Linked DNA regions of Homo sapiens: region 2 is linked to region 1. A link means that fine-mapping ties the variant in region 1 to the expression of a gene that starts in the linked region. Tissue or cell type: cerebellar hemisphere. Region 1 holds a variant in brackets; the other region holds the start of a gene. All regions are shown on one strand. Distances are between the middles of the regions.

Region 1 (8,110 bases):
ATTGGGTGGTAGAAATGTCACCAAGCCAGGCCTGCAGCAAAAGAAGGGACCAAACTGAACTCAGTAACTCTCAGTAGCAGAACTTACATTAGCATTTCTGCACATTAGTGAGAAGCACACAGCTCCTTATAAAACAAACTCCCAGCAAAAGAGCTTTGCATATTGAAGGCATTTATTCTTTTAGAAAGTACACCCAGTTAGTTATACTGTGTGATTACAATTATGTAAAAGAAATTATGCAATATAAAAAGAATGAAAACTGATGCAAGCAAAATGATACTAGTCGTTATCAGTTGTTGGGGTAATTTTTTTCTAGATTTCTAATTTTCTTTATTGAGTGCTTATTAGCTTCATAGTTGAAAGTAGAATTTTTAATAAATGAATTTTGCCAAATAAAAGCTCTATAGCTCCAAAGATAATTCATAAAATGATTAGATCTTATGAGACTCTGGTAAGCCGCTTAATTGGAAGAAAAATACTTTTAAAGTAGTAGCTATCATATATCAGCAATAATCAGTTAGAATGATGATTTGGAAAAGGATATATATATTTACATATATAGTACATATGTAAATATATGTATATATATAAATATGTGTATATGTATTTGTGTATATATGTAAATATATATATGAAGATAAATATAGGCCGGGTGCAGTGGCTCATGCCTGTAATCCCAGCACTTTGGCAGGCCGAAGCTGGTGGATCACCTGAGGTTGACAGTTTGAGACTAGTCTGGCCAACATGGCAAAACCCCGTCTCTACTAAAGATAGAAAAATTAGCCATACATGGTGGCATGTGCCTGTAATCCCAGCTGCTCAGGAGGCTAAGGCAGGAGAATTGCTTGAACCTGGGAGGTGGAACTTGCAGTGAGCTGAGATCGCGCCACTGGACTCCTGGGCAACAGAGCAAGACTCTGTCTCAAAAAAAAAAAAAAAAAAAAAAGATAAATGTATTTAAAGATTATTTATTCCCTTATATATATTAATCCAGGAATAAACCTAACTCTTGTTATGTGCAAATCTACATTTGTGAAGACTATATAAAATATTTTATCTGAATAAATGAAGTGACATACCTTGTTTCTGCATGGAACATTCAATACTATAAAGATGTCAATTTTCCCCATACTAGTGGATCATTAGAATAAAATTTCAGTAAAAATTCCAATGCAACTTTGCTTTAGAACCGGATATGGGCATTTGAAATTCATCTAAAGAAAAGTAGAAAAAAAATTTGGTTTTAAAAAAGGAAGAAAAACTAAAAAATAATAACAGACTGGTCTTTCCAGAAGTTCTATAAAACTACAGAAATTAAAACAACTTGAGGCAGGCATGGAAGAAAAGGGATGAAAGGAGAAGATGAGACTTGTGCATATGACATTTCTATCGTTTAATAAATTTAATGATGAGACTTCTATCGTTTAATAAAGAGGGCATTTCAAATCCAGGATTAATGATGGTCTGTTCAACGAATGGTGCTGAGGATGGTATTTGGGAGTAAAAGACACAAAAAAACCCCTCTAACTTCAAGTCATAATTCTACTTTATATACAGAATATATTTTGCATAAGGATTAATGATCACATGAATTAATGAGTGACAGATGGAAAAAACAGGGATATGTATTTTATAATTTGAGGATGAGGAAGTCTTTCCTAAATAAGAAGTAAAACAGAAATAAATCATGGAAGAAAATTGACAGACTTGACATAAAGAAATGAAACAATTCTGTAAAATATTGTAAAATAAATTTAAAAAGTGAACCGTAGGCCCAGAGCAGTGGCTCACACCTGTAATCCCAGCACTTTGGAGGGCCAAGGTGGGAGGATGGCTTGAGTCCAGGAGTTTGAGGCTAGCCTAGGCAACATGGTGAGACCCTGTGTTTACAAAAGATTAAAAATTAGCTGGGCATGGTGGTATGCACCATCCCAGCTGCTACTTGAGAGGCTGAGGTGGAAGGGTCGCTTGAGCCTGGGAGGTCAAGGCTGCAGTGTGCTGTGATTGTACCACTGCACTCCAGCCTGGGCAACAGAGCAAGACCCTGTCTCAAAAGAAAAAAAAAAAGCGAGTATTAGGCTGGGAGGATGACATTTGCAGCATATATAAGAGACAAATAATATAAAATAGATAAGCAACCAAATAACTAACAGGGCAAAAGGATATAGACATACAAGCCATAAAAGAAGAAATATTAAGTCTAATGCACATATTAAAAGATTTTCATCCTCATGCATTCATGACACACAAATTAAGAATCATTGAGAACCACCTTTCATATATTGTATTGCTTAATACACAAAAGATTGATAATACCCAGTATTTCAAGGTGGTGGAGGAAAGGAGGCATTTTTATATATGATGGCACAAGTGTAATTCAGTGAACCTTGTATTTGAGAATAGCTTTTTAAATAAACCAGCAATTTCACATCTAGAAGTTGATTCTACAGAATGACTTATACACATGCCCATGGATATATGCACAAAGCATTATCTGTAAAACTGAAAAAAATTAGAGTCAGCTTAATGCCCACCTATGAAGGAATAGATAAATTATGGTTTCATTGTGCTATGGAATACAATGCATTATCAATAAGGATGAAGTAAGATGAAGCAGATTATAGTAGTGTATACTTACTACAAAAGAAATGTATGATACATCATGGAGTTAGAAAATTGTTGCATAAGTGTGTGCAGTAAATAGCTTGATTATATTTTATTTTCAAAAACTCTTGTTAAAGGAGGAAGATTTTTACCTTTTATTTTATAAACTTGTATATTGGTTCAAATTCATTACTATTTTTTGTTTGTTTGTTTTGTTTTGTTTGATACGGAGTTTCGTTCTTGTCACCCAGGCTGGAGTGCAATGGTGTGATCTCAGCTCACTGCAACGTCTGCCTCCTGGGTTTAAGCAATTCTCCTCCCTCAGCCTCCTGAGTAGCTAGAATTACAGGCGCGTGCCACCACACCTGGCTAATTTTTGTATTTTTAGTAGAGATGGGGTTTCGCCATGTTGGCCAGGATGGTCTCTATCTCCCGATCTATGGTGATCTGCCTGCCTCAGCTTCCCAAAGTGCTGGGATTATAGGCGTGAGCCACCGCGCCTGGGCACTACTGTATTTTTAAAACACATTTTTTTAAAAATTAAGGTATTTGAAACCAAGTATCACTAAGTCAATCCACTTCCACAACTTTTCTGCCTTTCCTGGAGGAACAATTATCTCCACTCTGTTTACGAAAGATTCCTGGAGAGCTTTTAGAAAACAGGGATGCCTGGGCTCCATCTCAGAGCAGTTAAGTTAGGATATCAGGATTTTCAAGATTTGGTCTGCAGACCAGCAGCAGCAACAGTATCTGGGCGCTTCTTAGAAGTGCAAAATCTCAGGCCCCACCCCAGACCTACTATTTCAAAGTTTTCATTTAAATAATACCCCCCTGGTGATTTGTTTGCACTTTAGAGTTTGAGAAGCACTGATTATTCATTTATTGCCTACGTGACCTAGAGTAAGTTATTTAATTTCTGTACATTTCAGTTTCCTCAACTGTAAAATGAAGGAAAGTATTATCTGTGAAAGCTAAATGAGGTTTTATTCATTTAAAGTGTGTGTAAAGTGCCCAGTGCCCTGCCTGGCACATGGTAGATACTCAGTCAATGGTAGCTTTTATGATGGTGTTTACATCTCAAATATTGGACCTAAAATAATGGCGCCTCAGTAGATTGTTGTCCATTTACCAGCTCCCTAGATAATCCTGCATGCTCTGTCTCTCAGTAAGATCTGGAGAC[A/G]GATGATCAGGACACATGGAAAGCTCACCATGAGCGGGCTACTCTCCAGTACAGCCATGTGCTTCTGCTCCCACAAATTCAAGCGTGCCTTTACCAAGGGTCAGCTGGGCATGTGCTCTGCTGTTTATGCCAATAGTACTTGTTGCTGAGTTACATAATTTAATTAAATATTATGTAAACCAATGACATATGAGTATAAAAAGAGTGGTTGTTTCTATGAACCACTAAACTAAATGCTTTCAAAAGGCCTTTTACAGTTGTCTCACCCACACCCATTTTCATTTCAAAAAACGGGTGTGGGTGAGACAACTGTAGAAGACAAGAGAAAATGAATCGTATACATTTTAAACTATATTTGGGTTGTTTTGCAAATTTCTTAACATTTTCAATCCAATGTGAGGAAGCCAAAATTGGAACTCATAGTTGCTGTTTTGTGGGTGAGTTTAAGAAAGATCAGTTGCCTGTGCTTGCACAAAAGGTCTTGGCTCTACATCAAAAGATTGGGGATAAGTGTACATTTATATATCTCACGTTAAAATAAAATGCTTCAGGCCTGCTTACTGAAGGTTTGGAGCTCAACAGGCTACAAAGAGAGCAATATCGACTCCTCCCCAATCCCTCCTCCTTTATACCTACTGAATGGGCTGATTCTTTCCCTGTTCTTATATGAAGTCTCAAGCAGATCTCCCAGTCACTTAAAGGTTTTAAATATCCTGAGCTCACCTTTGGTCTTAACAGAAGTCTTATTTTAGTAATTAAAATGTTCAATTTAGTGTAATAACCAAATTCCAAATTTTTTACCCTCCCTGGGCTGACACCTGACTTTGGCCTACAAGCCTAGAGTGAGGGTCTTGGGAGTCTGGGGCTGGGGGCTTAGGGCATGGTTGGCATCTTTTCCTCTTCCGATGCTTCCCCTCACAAGCTGTCTTTCTATTCCCTCCAGGACTGGGCCCAGGGCTGGGGTTATGCAAAGGGCACATGGACGGAACCTCTGTGATCTGGCGTTGCTGCTCATTGAGGTTGAGTGCTCAGGGTGGACTCTCATGGGGTTCTTTGCCCCATGGGAAATCCCCACTGCACTGTCCATGATGAGGACAGCCACTCCAATGCCTGGCCACTTTCACTGCCAACACTCAGCCCTCTGGCTTTCAGTTGGAGGGGTCCTCTCTAGGTTTTTTTCCCCTAAGGACCTTCTCAAGAAGGCTTCAGGCTGGTTTCCTTACATGGACCCACGTGGCCAAGCTGAAAAACTCTCACATCCTTGTCTCATTGTTGGTGAAACTCCAACTTGCTCCTAGTGCCCTTGTTTTCCTCTTTGCAATTAACTAACTGCAGCTCCAACCACCATAGCTTACCTCTAGGAGAGTCAGACACCCAGAGTCTCCAAATATAGTTTGCAGATTTCTAAACATTGTTGTCTATGTGAATGGGACCTTCTAGAGTTGTGCATTGTACAACCTGAACAGCCATCCTCAGAGTTCAGACACTAGTCCACTGAATTCCAGAGGACATAGATCAAGTTCCTTATGTGACTCCCCCAAAGTCTTTCTCACTTGGATTAAGAAGAGGGGAAGCACACTTCTTCCCTCACCAAAAGAATGGGAAAATGCCACAATCCTTCAAAAACTTTCACCTTAGGAATCCTCGATTCTCATTCTCTGATCTCTTTAGCCTTTGTCTCAACTCTTGGCTCCATCTTAAATCTCTTCTAAGAGTCACAGAAGCAGTTGTTTTGGCAACCTGATTTGCATACTACACTTCAAAATATGAGTTTAATTCTGTTCTTAGAGCCTAGCCCTCCCACCCCCACAGATGGGACCAAAAGTGTTCCTGTTAAACCTTTAAGTGGCGTTTAAAATTATCTGAGCAACTGTGGATGAAGTTGCTGCTATACATGGAAATACTATATGTAGGAGAATTAGTCAACAGGAAGAATTCAGCCTTGTAGAAATCTTTCCCAGAAATGCTATTTTCCATGAGTACAATTGAGATCACCCTTGAAATATCTATCAGAACAAGTCTAAATAGACAGAGAAGGAAGCTGGGCTGAGGGGTGCTATTGGTATAGAGATTGACTTTGAATGTTCACATTTGCTATTATTTCTGTTAAAACTCAATTTGGAAAACATCAAAAAGTCACAAGAATGGAATAGTCTTAGCTTTTTTTTACTGCTTTATAATTTAAGATGATTGTGCAAGAAGTGTCAGGCCGAATATTTACCAATTTGCCTCATGCAAGAGCTTTGAACTCTATCAGAACCATGTCCCTAAACCACCAAGGATGCGGCAAGAGCCAGTCTTATTAATTCTGTCTGTTCTCTTGTCAAGTAATCTCATTTGCTCATTGGAATCCATGTCTCTCTAATTCTACAAGCCTACCTGTACCCTCCCTACAGAGGAGACTCTGTATCATAATTTTACAAAATGTTTTTGATTAGATGTAAGACAAATGATAGCCTTCTTTGTTCAGAGAATTTTAAAAAGGGTGACATTTTACCTGTCAACTATTATTTTTGCAAATTTCGTACCGGAGGAGGTTTTGGCTCTTGCTCTGCTGCTCTAGTTTTGGGAACTACCAAGGTAATGCCTTTAGACCTTTTTAGAGTTTTCACACTGATTGCTGATTTAAAATATAAATAGGTGAAATTATTGATGCTGTTGAACTTTTTAAAAATTAGTTTTCTTCTGCCCTTTAAAAGGCATTTAGTGATACAGTCACCTGGAGGTGGCTGTGTGCCCGGCTGAAAACTGGAGAATGCTAATACTAAGGAAAAGAAGGAAAACAGATGTTAAAGAGAAGCAACTAGCAACCTCTGCCACAATCCATTTTCTCCCTCTTTAGCCCTCTCCTCATCCAGACCTCCAAATTTGCCAAATCAAAAGGATTTTCTCACTCAAAAAAGCATCACTTTCACAACCCAGTAGAGAAAACCAAAAATTCCAGTCTCCATGACAATCACTGCTGTGGTGGCAGCCATATGATACTGCAGTCGAACACATCCTGCGTTCAACCACTGCTCACTGACACCCTTGCTTGAGCTATGAGATGGTTCCCCTTCCACAAGCTCAGCCACGTATCCCGAAGCAGAGCGCCACGACTGTGTTCTGATGGGCTTTACCCCTCATTCCTGGGCTGCTCCAGAACCGGCTTCCCCGTGGTGCAAGCTCAACCCAGTGGCCAGACCACCTCTTCTCTCCTGCTGAATTCCTCGTTAGGCCCTTGTCCTTTTTGGTGGGCTTTACATGTTGGGGGTTTCAAGGTCAGCACTGCAGGAAGCAAATTTCCTTGAAGCCCTTCAAACTGCAGTAAAACTACATGGCCACTGGGTGGAAAACAATACCTTGTTAATGACCCTGAAACCCAAAGAACAGGAGCTGCAAACATGTGACCTGTGTTTTTGTTTTGTTACCATGGACAATGTTGAAAAAAAATTAGTTGCCAACATTTAAAAATTAGAACATTTCACATGAAACGCTGAATTTCCAACTTGTATTATAATCTAGAAATTAGAATCTCTCTCCACATTCTGGGCCTGAATTCCTGCGTGGCAAAAGATAGTTAAAGTGTTTCTTGGTATCCTGTGATAATAAATGCATTTGAAAATGTGAACCCTGAAATTGTACAGCAGTGTCCAGTGATAAGTTGAATGAATAAACTTAAAAGTAACTTTAAAAAGATTATCCTGAAAGTAAAAGTCAAACTTAAAATTCTCATTGATGACTTGAAGACTCCCAATAATGCATTGCAGATTCACTTCCCAGGATGAAATATACTCTGTCAGAGTCCCCATCATTCACCTGGCAAATTCCTCCAACTCCTTCTGGACCCAGCCAGAAGCACTGTCCCCTGTACTGAAACTGCCCCAGTTTCCCCAGGCCAATTCTCTGTGTTTGCATTATACTGAAATACTACTTACCTTTTTCTGATTCAGAAGTCATCATTCATTTGTCTCCACGACTGACTTGTGAGCAATTTGAGGGGAAAAGATGGTAATTTATATAGTGTGTTCCTAGCAGCTGAGCCATAATAGCTGGTTAATGTTTGTTTGTTTATTTATTTATTTGTTTATTTATTTGAAATGGAATCTCGCTCTGTCGCCCAGGCTGGAGTGCAGTGGCGTGATCTTGGCTCACTGCAACCTCTGCCTCCTGGGTTCAAGTGATTCTCCCACTTCAGCCTCCTAAGTAGCTGGGATTACAGGCACATGCCACCATGCCCAGCTAATTTTTGTATTTTTAGTAGAGACGGGGGTTTCACCATATTTGTCAGGCTGGTCTCAAACTCCTGACCTTGTGATCCGCCCACCTTGGCCTCCCAAAGTGCTG
Region 2 (8,109 bases), 110 kb before region 1:
TTGAGATGGAAAGAATAGCTGCCCTGCCCCCTAGAAACAGAACTTCTGGGAAAAGCAGTCAGTTTGCAATATGAAACCTAAATTAAAACATGGTTGGTTTAAGGCAAAAGGGACTTACCACAAGTGGAGATGGATATTCCCTTAACAGATCACAGCTGGATATATTAAACTTTAAGTCATGTTCATAGAAAATATGTTTACAATGCATGAAGATTCTTTCAAAGATAAGGCAATCAAAGGTGTCCAGCACAGAAGAGATGGAAAACAAAAACTGGCAAGACAAGGACACCGGATTCTGAAAGAAGACTTTGTGTCAACAATAGCTTCACCAGATTGGTGTACAAAAGTCTGACCATAGGAAGGGGAATTATGACGGCTAAGAAACAGGGCCCATCTACCCATGTTAGGACTCACTGACACATCTTTGTGCCCACTATGTACTAAATACTGTCCTAGGTCCAGCCGTGAAGACCTCTGCACTCATGGAGGTTATGTTTTAGTTAGGGAGAGAGACAAAGAACAAGAAAGCAAATATATGGTCTGGAGTTAGGTAATGATATATGCTCTAAAGGACAGGAAAAAATAAAGCAGAATATGAGAAAGAATGATGTAGGGGGCAGGCATTTGAGATAATGCCATCTGGCAATCAACAAAAATCAACTGAACTCTTAAGAGGAGGTGGCAAGGTGAAATTCAAATTTTTAAAGCTATGAAGCCTTTAGTATATTCATTTAAAATATGTGCTGCCTACTACTACATGAAGCGCTATATTGGTGCTGGAGATTACAGGAAAACACACGCATTTGAAGGTATCTGAGAACTGGTGCACACTGAGGAGAAAACCAATGGCATGTGAAAGGCTGAGGAAGTACAGAGGGGAAGCCAAGGTTCCTGCAGGGCAAGTAGGACAAAACAGTGTCACCCTATGAATGACCTTTTCTTCTGAAGTTGCTTCCAACTTGAATATTCTGACTATATTAGAAAAGGATAGATGCTGGAGCAGTGATATGCTTAAGGGAAAAGAAAGAAGCAGAGGGAGGAAGATTTTTATAAGATTCGGCAACATTCATTCAACAGATAAATAACTGTTTATTGAGCAAGACCTATTGGGTGTCACAAGGATGAGATTCTGTGCTGAACAAAGGTAAGGCCGGGCATGGTGGCTCACGCCTGTAATCCCAGCACTTTGGGAGGCTAAGGCGGGTGGGTCATGAGGTCAGGAGATCGAGACCATCCTGGCTAACATGGTGAAACCCTGTCTCTACTAAAAATACTAAAAAATTAGCTGGGTGTGGTGGTGGGCACCTGTAGTCCCAGCTACTCGAGAGGCTGAGGCAGGAGAATGGTGTGAACCCAGAAGGAGGAGCTTGCAGTGAGTGGAGATCGTGCCACTGCACTCCAGCCTAGGCAACAAGAGTGAGACTCCGTCTCAAAAAATAAATAAATAAAAAATAAACAAAGGTAAGCAAAAACACACAGACATCTCAAGAAGGTTACAGTGAGACTGCCTTTGTTAGCACAGAGCCAAAAAGGATCAAACTGCGGGTATGGGGGAGAAGTAGGTGGATGCAAAAAGGATGGTGAGGCTATCACCCAACTGCAACCAAACTGAAGATGAGGGATCTGATGCAAAAGGTTAAAAGATTAGGGAAGTAACCATCAAGTCCATAGCTTAGGAGTAGTTTAACCGTGGTGTCCTTTCCATCCCACACTAACTACATCTGGATTAAAATCATCTGCTTCCTCCCAAAGATGTGAATCATGCCTCCTTTAATCTCTATATTCCCAATAACTTGTAAATAATGGAGTCTCAATAAATGCTTGGCTAAGGCTAAGTTATAATGACATGAGTAAAACAGGAGAGACTAAATAAAGATTTGATGGGTGTGAGAAGCAGGATAGAAGATTCCTGCTAGGTGTCCAAAGCAATTGTATTTGGCTGACATCTGAATGAACAAGACCCACCAGCAACTGCATCTAACTCACTGGACAGCCCTGAGAAAGTCACCTCAATTCTGAATCTGAATTTGTAAAAGGAAGATATTGGCGCAAACCAGAAGTTGCAGGCCTTTCAGTGGAAAGAAGGTGGCTGTTATTACACTGAAACCTGGAGAGTGCATCTTTGCTGCCCTGGTAAGGGGTACCGGCTTCCCCTTAAGCTGTGCTTCCAAACAAATTATAGAGAGGAGAACATACAGCTGGTATGGCCACCAAAATAAGGACCTTTGAGGCTTGTGAACAAAACAGATGCGCTTGTGTGTGGCAGGTAAGGAGACAGGGGTTTGGAGCAGGAGCAGCAGAGACCAGTGGTAATAAGTTATACAGATCTCAGAGGTGAGACAACAGATAGCCCAAGGAAAGAATGGAAGGGATGGAACAGATATCTATGTTTGCAAGGTGGTTCTCATGTCTGGCATGTACACACCCAGGCACCAAGACACACAATAAGTCAGGGAGAAGTAGATTTTACACAACCTAAAAACTTTAATACTAATTTAACAGCTGTTAGAGCAATAATAATCCATTAGCAAGATCACCTGTAACCTTTGAAAAGCTTGTTTATTTACCATATTTACAGAGTGCCATCAGACTATATTTTGAGATTCTGACAAGTTTCCATTTAGGATCACAGAAAGACCTGACATTTCGGCTTGGCATGGGAAATTATGTAATTTCCCATGCCAAGCTGAATTCCCCAACATTACAGGAAAACCCACAAACCCTGCAGAAGGGAGTGAAAAGCCAATCCAGTCAAAGGAAATCTTCCAGTTCTACAAAAGAAAACAAAAAAACAAATACCACAAAGAGCAATGAATCATTTCTAGTGAATAACTTTTCACTCCATCTTCAATAATGTCATCCTGAAGCCCCTGAAAACTATTAAATTACATATTCTATATTCCTGGTGATATCACTGCCTAAAATTACACAACTTAAAGCAGTGAGGGAGCTGACGACTGGTAAGAAATCTTCAAGGACGTAAAAGGCCAGAAAAAAATCATGTGTTTGAAAATGCCTGCGAAATAATAAACGCCTGAGGGAACTTGATGGCTTTGCTGCTTCTAAGCTAAATAAAGCCTGGGGGGCTTTGCAAAGGTCCTAGTGAGGATAATCTCCATGATTACACAGAGCAAACATCCAATCAATTCCACATGAACCCAGGAAAGTTAATCCAAGAAGAACACCACCACTTAAAATATTGAGAAAAACACACAGTTCTTATTGTTTAAATGCTCCATCAGCGCTGGAGAACGTATCAGGTCATTCTAACAAGTCAGAACACTTGACTAGTGTTTCTGTGACAATGATTTGGCTTGTGTTAACTAAAGGGCAACAAGAAGTTTGCGTTCCAAAGCTCAGGCCTAAAACAGGTCCAATCCCCGACTGCCAGCAGTCTCCCTACTTCCTGCACACCTTTGGATTATTGCACACCGACTTCCTGCACACACCTGGGTTTGAGACACCTTCCCCGAGGGGTTACTCTAGCTAAGTTCCCGAGGCAAGCTTGAAAGAAGTTCGCTGTACCCCTACTCTCGGTCAAAGCACCATCAGCACATGTCGCTTGACAAGTTCGGCGGCAATGGAGTGATCAATTTACATAAACAACTCTGAAGAGATAACGCATCACTGCAAGGAGAGAAAGTCAGCAGGACGACTGTGCCCGCTCCGGGAAAGGCGGCTGCAAGGCTGGCCCGCGGGCAGAGCCTCCGCTGACGTTCACCGCAGCTCCCACCACGCAACAGGTCCACGTAGGCAAGGCCCGGGCGGCCGGCATCTGGGCACCTGCCCCTAGCGCTCCAGGCCCAGCTCTCCCCTGCGCCCATCTCGCGTCCACCCCCGCAGCCACCGCAGGCCAGCCGGCCAAGCCCACCCGCGATAAAGCACGGAGCACATTCCTCATTCCTCCCAAGATGCCGAGATAGTGCGGCCCGCTTGAGCGCTGCCCAGGTCACAAGGTCCTCCGGGACATGCCTTGACTAAAGGAGAGGCGCGCCCGGCCCTTGGTGGGGGAACGACCCCGGGGAGTGGAGGGGGGGAGGATGCAGTGCTCTGTAGCTTCCAGATGGAAACAGCCCGAATCACCCGGCTTCTCACCTGACCGGGCACAAGTGCCAGGTGTCAGTACCTAGCATGGATCTAAGTTACTTAACAGTCCAGAACGCTTCTCCAATAGCACGAGCCCCAGTGACTACGCGCAAAATATCCGGTCACTTTGAATAAAATGAAAAGGAACTTTTACTGGGAAAGGATGGAAGTAAAGAGACAGGGGGAGAAAGAAGCAGGTGAATGCATAAAAGAGGGAAGGTTCCTTCACGCCGGACCCGGAGATGGAAGAGGGGACGAGAGAGGATGGGAGCGGAAGGGACAGCAGACGAGCGGGCAGAGCGCTCAGGTGAGGCCGGACCCTTACCTCGGGCAGCTCGCGGAGCTGGTTGGCGTCCAGCAGCAGCTCCTCCAGGCTCCGGGCATAGCGGTAGATCTCCTCGGGGACGTAGACCAGCGAGCAGTGGCGCTTGTCGATGCTCTCCACATGACGGTTGCACCGCCACAGGGGGATGCAGTGGAACATCGCCGCCCCCGCCGCCGCCTAGCCGGGTCCCGAGCGGCGGAGACCCGGGCTCCGAGCCCGCTCTGGCCGGCGGCTCCGCTCAGTCCGCTGCCCTCTCCGCGCTCGTTGTTGGCTCTTGGGTTAGCTCGCTTCTCGCGCCGGGCTTCGCGGTCGGAAGTGCTTCAAGGAACCTGGAGCGGGAGCCCCTGCCCCGTCCCTGTACCCCCGCCCGCCAGCCGGTGCCTCCACTCCCACCCGCCAGTCGCCGTCGCCGCCCCCGCCGCCGCGCGGAGCTTCCTACTCGCAGCCGCCGCGCGGACTGAGCATGCGCGCCAGTGGGTGCGCGCCGAGGGCGTTTCCCGGCCCGAGGGATGCTCCGCTCCGGGTTTTCCCGGCGACCTGCATCCAGAGAGGGTCGACTGACCTGCGGGCCGGCTGCTGGCGGTCTGCTTACTCCGGCAAAGACGGGGGCGCATCGGGCCGTTTGAGGAAGGCAGACTGTGAAAGGACTTGGGACAAAGATGAGGCGGAGTAGAGGCGGCCTGAGCAGAGCAGAACAACTTTGATATTTAGTTTTATTTAACTCGCACTCCTCTCCTTGCTCCCCTTCCCCAAAACAACTTTCTCTTCCGGGGTCACACAGGACCGCCCCAAAGCGTACCTTGCGCGCCGGGGGCGCCAGGCGCTACTGGATTCGGTGTAGTTTTGAGGTGTTTGCACCACCCTCGCTGCTGCTTTCGTGGCTGCCCGTGTGCCCGCTGCTCACGGCTGCCCCAGAAGTGTGAGCTGGCCGCGCCCGGCCCTCTGGTCCTCGGGCACCGCCTGCAGGCTTTGTAACTTGGGAGCACATCTCTGGTGATCATGGTTTATGCAGTGAGTGATAGTAAATCCTCCTCCCTGTACCAGCAAAGGCATAGGAGTCTGAGAGTCTGCGAGATTCTCATAGATGTGGTTGCACCTGGCAAGGAGCCCAGCTGCAGAAATAAGCAGGCAAACGCGAGTTTCTGAGCCAGTTCCAGCCCGGCCCAGATGTTGGCCCCTGACAACTAGCTGTGGCTGGTGCGGAGGGAGGAGCGAGGGAAGAGGGGCAGATCGAGGCTGCCAGGTGAGCATCCTCCATACAGCTCCTGCTTTTCTGCTACAACCCCAGTCCCGTCCAGCCCGGATGACCGGGGAGGCTCACTATTGGGTTATAACAACCATTCCCTCGCCCCGACTCATTCCTGCGGACCACGGCCGGAATCCTGAACTGCCCCTCTTTGCCTGTAACTGTTTGCAACACAGTCCCCATCTCCGAATAACCAAATTTTCTCCTTTAATGAAGGGTTGCTAAAGTCAAGGTCAATCACAATGATGAATCATTTCCTTGGGGGCTTCTCTGATTCCCCACCCGGCCGCCCCTTCGTTCCACACTTTCCCTTTCAAGCATACTCAAACTCCAGGTTTCCACCTGCGGCCGCTGCCACGCTGGCTCTCCCACACTCACTCCCGCCCTCCAGCTGCTATAGCTAAAATCTGGAGCCACGGAGTTCACTTTTCTATAGAAGACAAAGCTGAGCATGCTCAGTGGCCAAGGCAAAGTTTGGTCGGAAACTAGTTTTTGCATTAGACTCTCCATGGGCTCCATAGACTCTCCTGTACCTTACGACTAGGCACAGGAGCGTTTCCCCGGTGAAATGGAGAAGAGGACACTTGGTCTTTTCAACTTTACTAGGAGGGCTCCTTTCTTCCCAGTCCGTAAGGAGGGGTCTGACTTTCATTTCCACCCCAGCATTATCACCTTAACTCTCATTCCAGTCAATCCCGAAACTCCGTTGCCCTACCCACTTCACCCTTCTTTTGTTTGTCCTGATTTGATTCCTGCGTTCTCACAGAGGGCTACCTGGACTTTGAACCTCCACCCCCCTTTCTACATTCTTGCATTCCAGAAACATATGAAGCTCATTTCTGCCACCCTTCCTAGAAAACTGGTTCCTGACAGAGACATGTGGAAAGGTAAGTAAGTCCCTGTCTTCAAGTTTTCCAACTGCTTTTTAAAAAAAAAATTAAAGAAGGCTAGTTCCCTCCATTTAAAATAATGTGATTTCCAGAGGTTATCACACTAGATTATTTTAACGAACACCAAATGTATTTTAAAGACGTGTCCAGTCTTTTAAAAATTCAGACCTCAATAAGCATTCCTTGTGTGCCTCTCCATGATGCTTCAGCTTCTCTGTGTTATTATTTTTGTATCACCTTAATCCGAAAGAGATTATGACCTCTTAAACAACAGATACTGTCTCACTTGCTTTGTAGATCTGGGAAGCTGCCACAGTGCCATATGCACAGTCAATGATCAACAGTTTTTGTTGATTTAATTCTATGGGTAGTCACTGGGAGAATTCTTGACTTTCCTTGTTTCCAATAATCTGCCAAGAATTTGAAACAGCGTAGTAAGAGAGAAAAAATGAAACAACACCTTGTCAACTACAGAATAGGGAAGCAATTAACTTTTTACTCACCTGAAGAATTTTAGGGTTTCCCGCCTGATAAAACATCTAGTTTCTTCCGCCACATACAAATGAGTTTGACTCAATTTAAACAAAGTTTAAAAAGACCACCTAAATCACTTTATTCTTAGAATAATGTAATTCTTTTATTCATTTGTACTGTGAACCATGTTTTCACAGCCTTTGAGCTAAAGAGATCTGTGTTTGAACTCTTGTTATGCCACTAGCTTCGTAGAAATTGACAGTTTACTTAACTTGTATAAGCCTCAGTTTTATCATATCTCAAATGAGGATGATTCATGGGATTGTTATCTGGATTAAATGAAATGACATATGTAAAATGCTTAGTACAGTATCAGACACACATTACTTTAATCAATAAATATTAATTATGCACTTTATTAGCCAGCCTCCAGGAAGTTAGGGACAACATCCACCATCTCCTGGTTGGTCTATGTAACCAACTTTTTCTTTCTCGAATCACTCACTTTGGGGAAGCCAGCTGCCATGTTGAGCAAATCTAGAGCTCCACATGCCAAAGAATTGCAGACTGCTGACAACAACTAGCAAGGGACTGACGATTCTTGGCAGTAGTCATGTGAGTGAGCCATCTTGGAAGCCAGTTCTCCAGCCCTTGTCAAGCCTTCAAGTGACTGCAGCACCAGCTGATAGCTTGACTAAAACCTCATGATAGCCTCAGACTCAGGACCACTCAGCTAAGCTGCTCCCCACTCTTGCCCCTCAGAAATTATGTGAGACAGTAAATGTTTGTTGCTTTAAGCTGCTAAGATTTGGAGTAATTTATTACACAGCAACAAATAACTAATAAAGGTACATACTATGCACCAGGCATTGTGCTAGATACTAGAAATGTAAGAAAAACAAGATAGGTCTTAGCCTCATGAAGCTTACTCTCTGAAGTTAGGAGAATGATAAATACTTAGTGGTCTGTTGTTGCTTTATCATTAATTTTTTGAGCATGATATCATTAATTTTTTTAAGTGAAAATCCAAAGTGTTAGCGTGTAAGATAGGGATTCTTGTAAATGGGGATTCAGAGGTTTGGGCATGT

Evidence for each region. PIP is the estimated chance that this variant, and not a neighbour inherited with it, causes the effect.
Region 2: it holds the start of LRRC1, and the variant in region 1 is fine-mapped to the expression of LRRC1 in cerebellar hemisphere (GTEx, PIP 0.94).

Annotation. Positions count from the first base shown.
Region 1 is chr6:53,678,596-53,686,705 of GRCh38, reverse strand. No RefSeq gene overlaps it. Among named protein-coding and RNA genes, the nearest start is that of KLHL31, 17 kb to the right of the region's middle. The variant A/G (reference allele first, on the strand shown) is at 3,785.
Region 2 is chr6:53,791,718-53,799,826 of GRCh38, reverse strand. It overlaps LRRC1 (leucine rich repeat containing 1), which reads right to left and starts at 4,822. Exons shown (of 14, transcript NM_018214.5): 1 at 4,412-4,822. The coding sequence starts at 4,570. It overlaps LOC124901333 (a long non-coding RNA gene), which reads left to right and starts at 6,152. Exons shown (of 5, transcript XR_007059619.1): 1 at 6,152-6,286; 2 at 6,478-6,544. RefSeq lists an enhancer at 4,038-4,750 and silencers at 4,717-4,956, 6,002-6,131.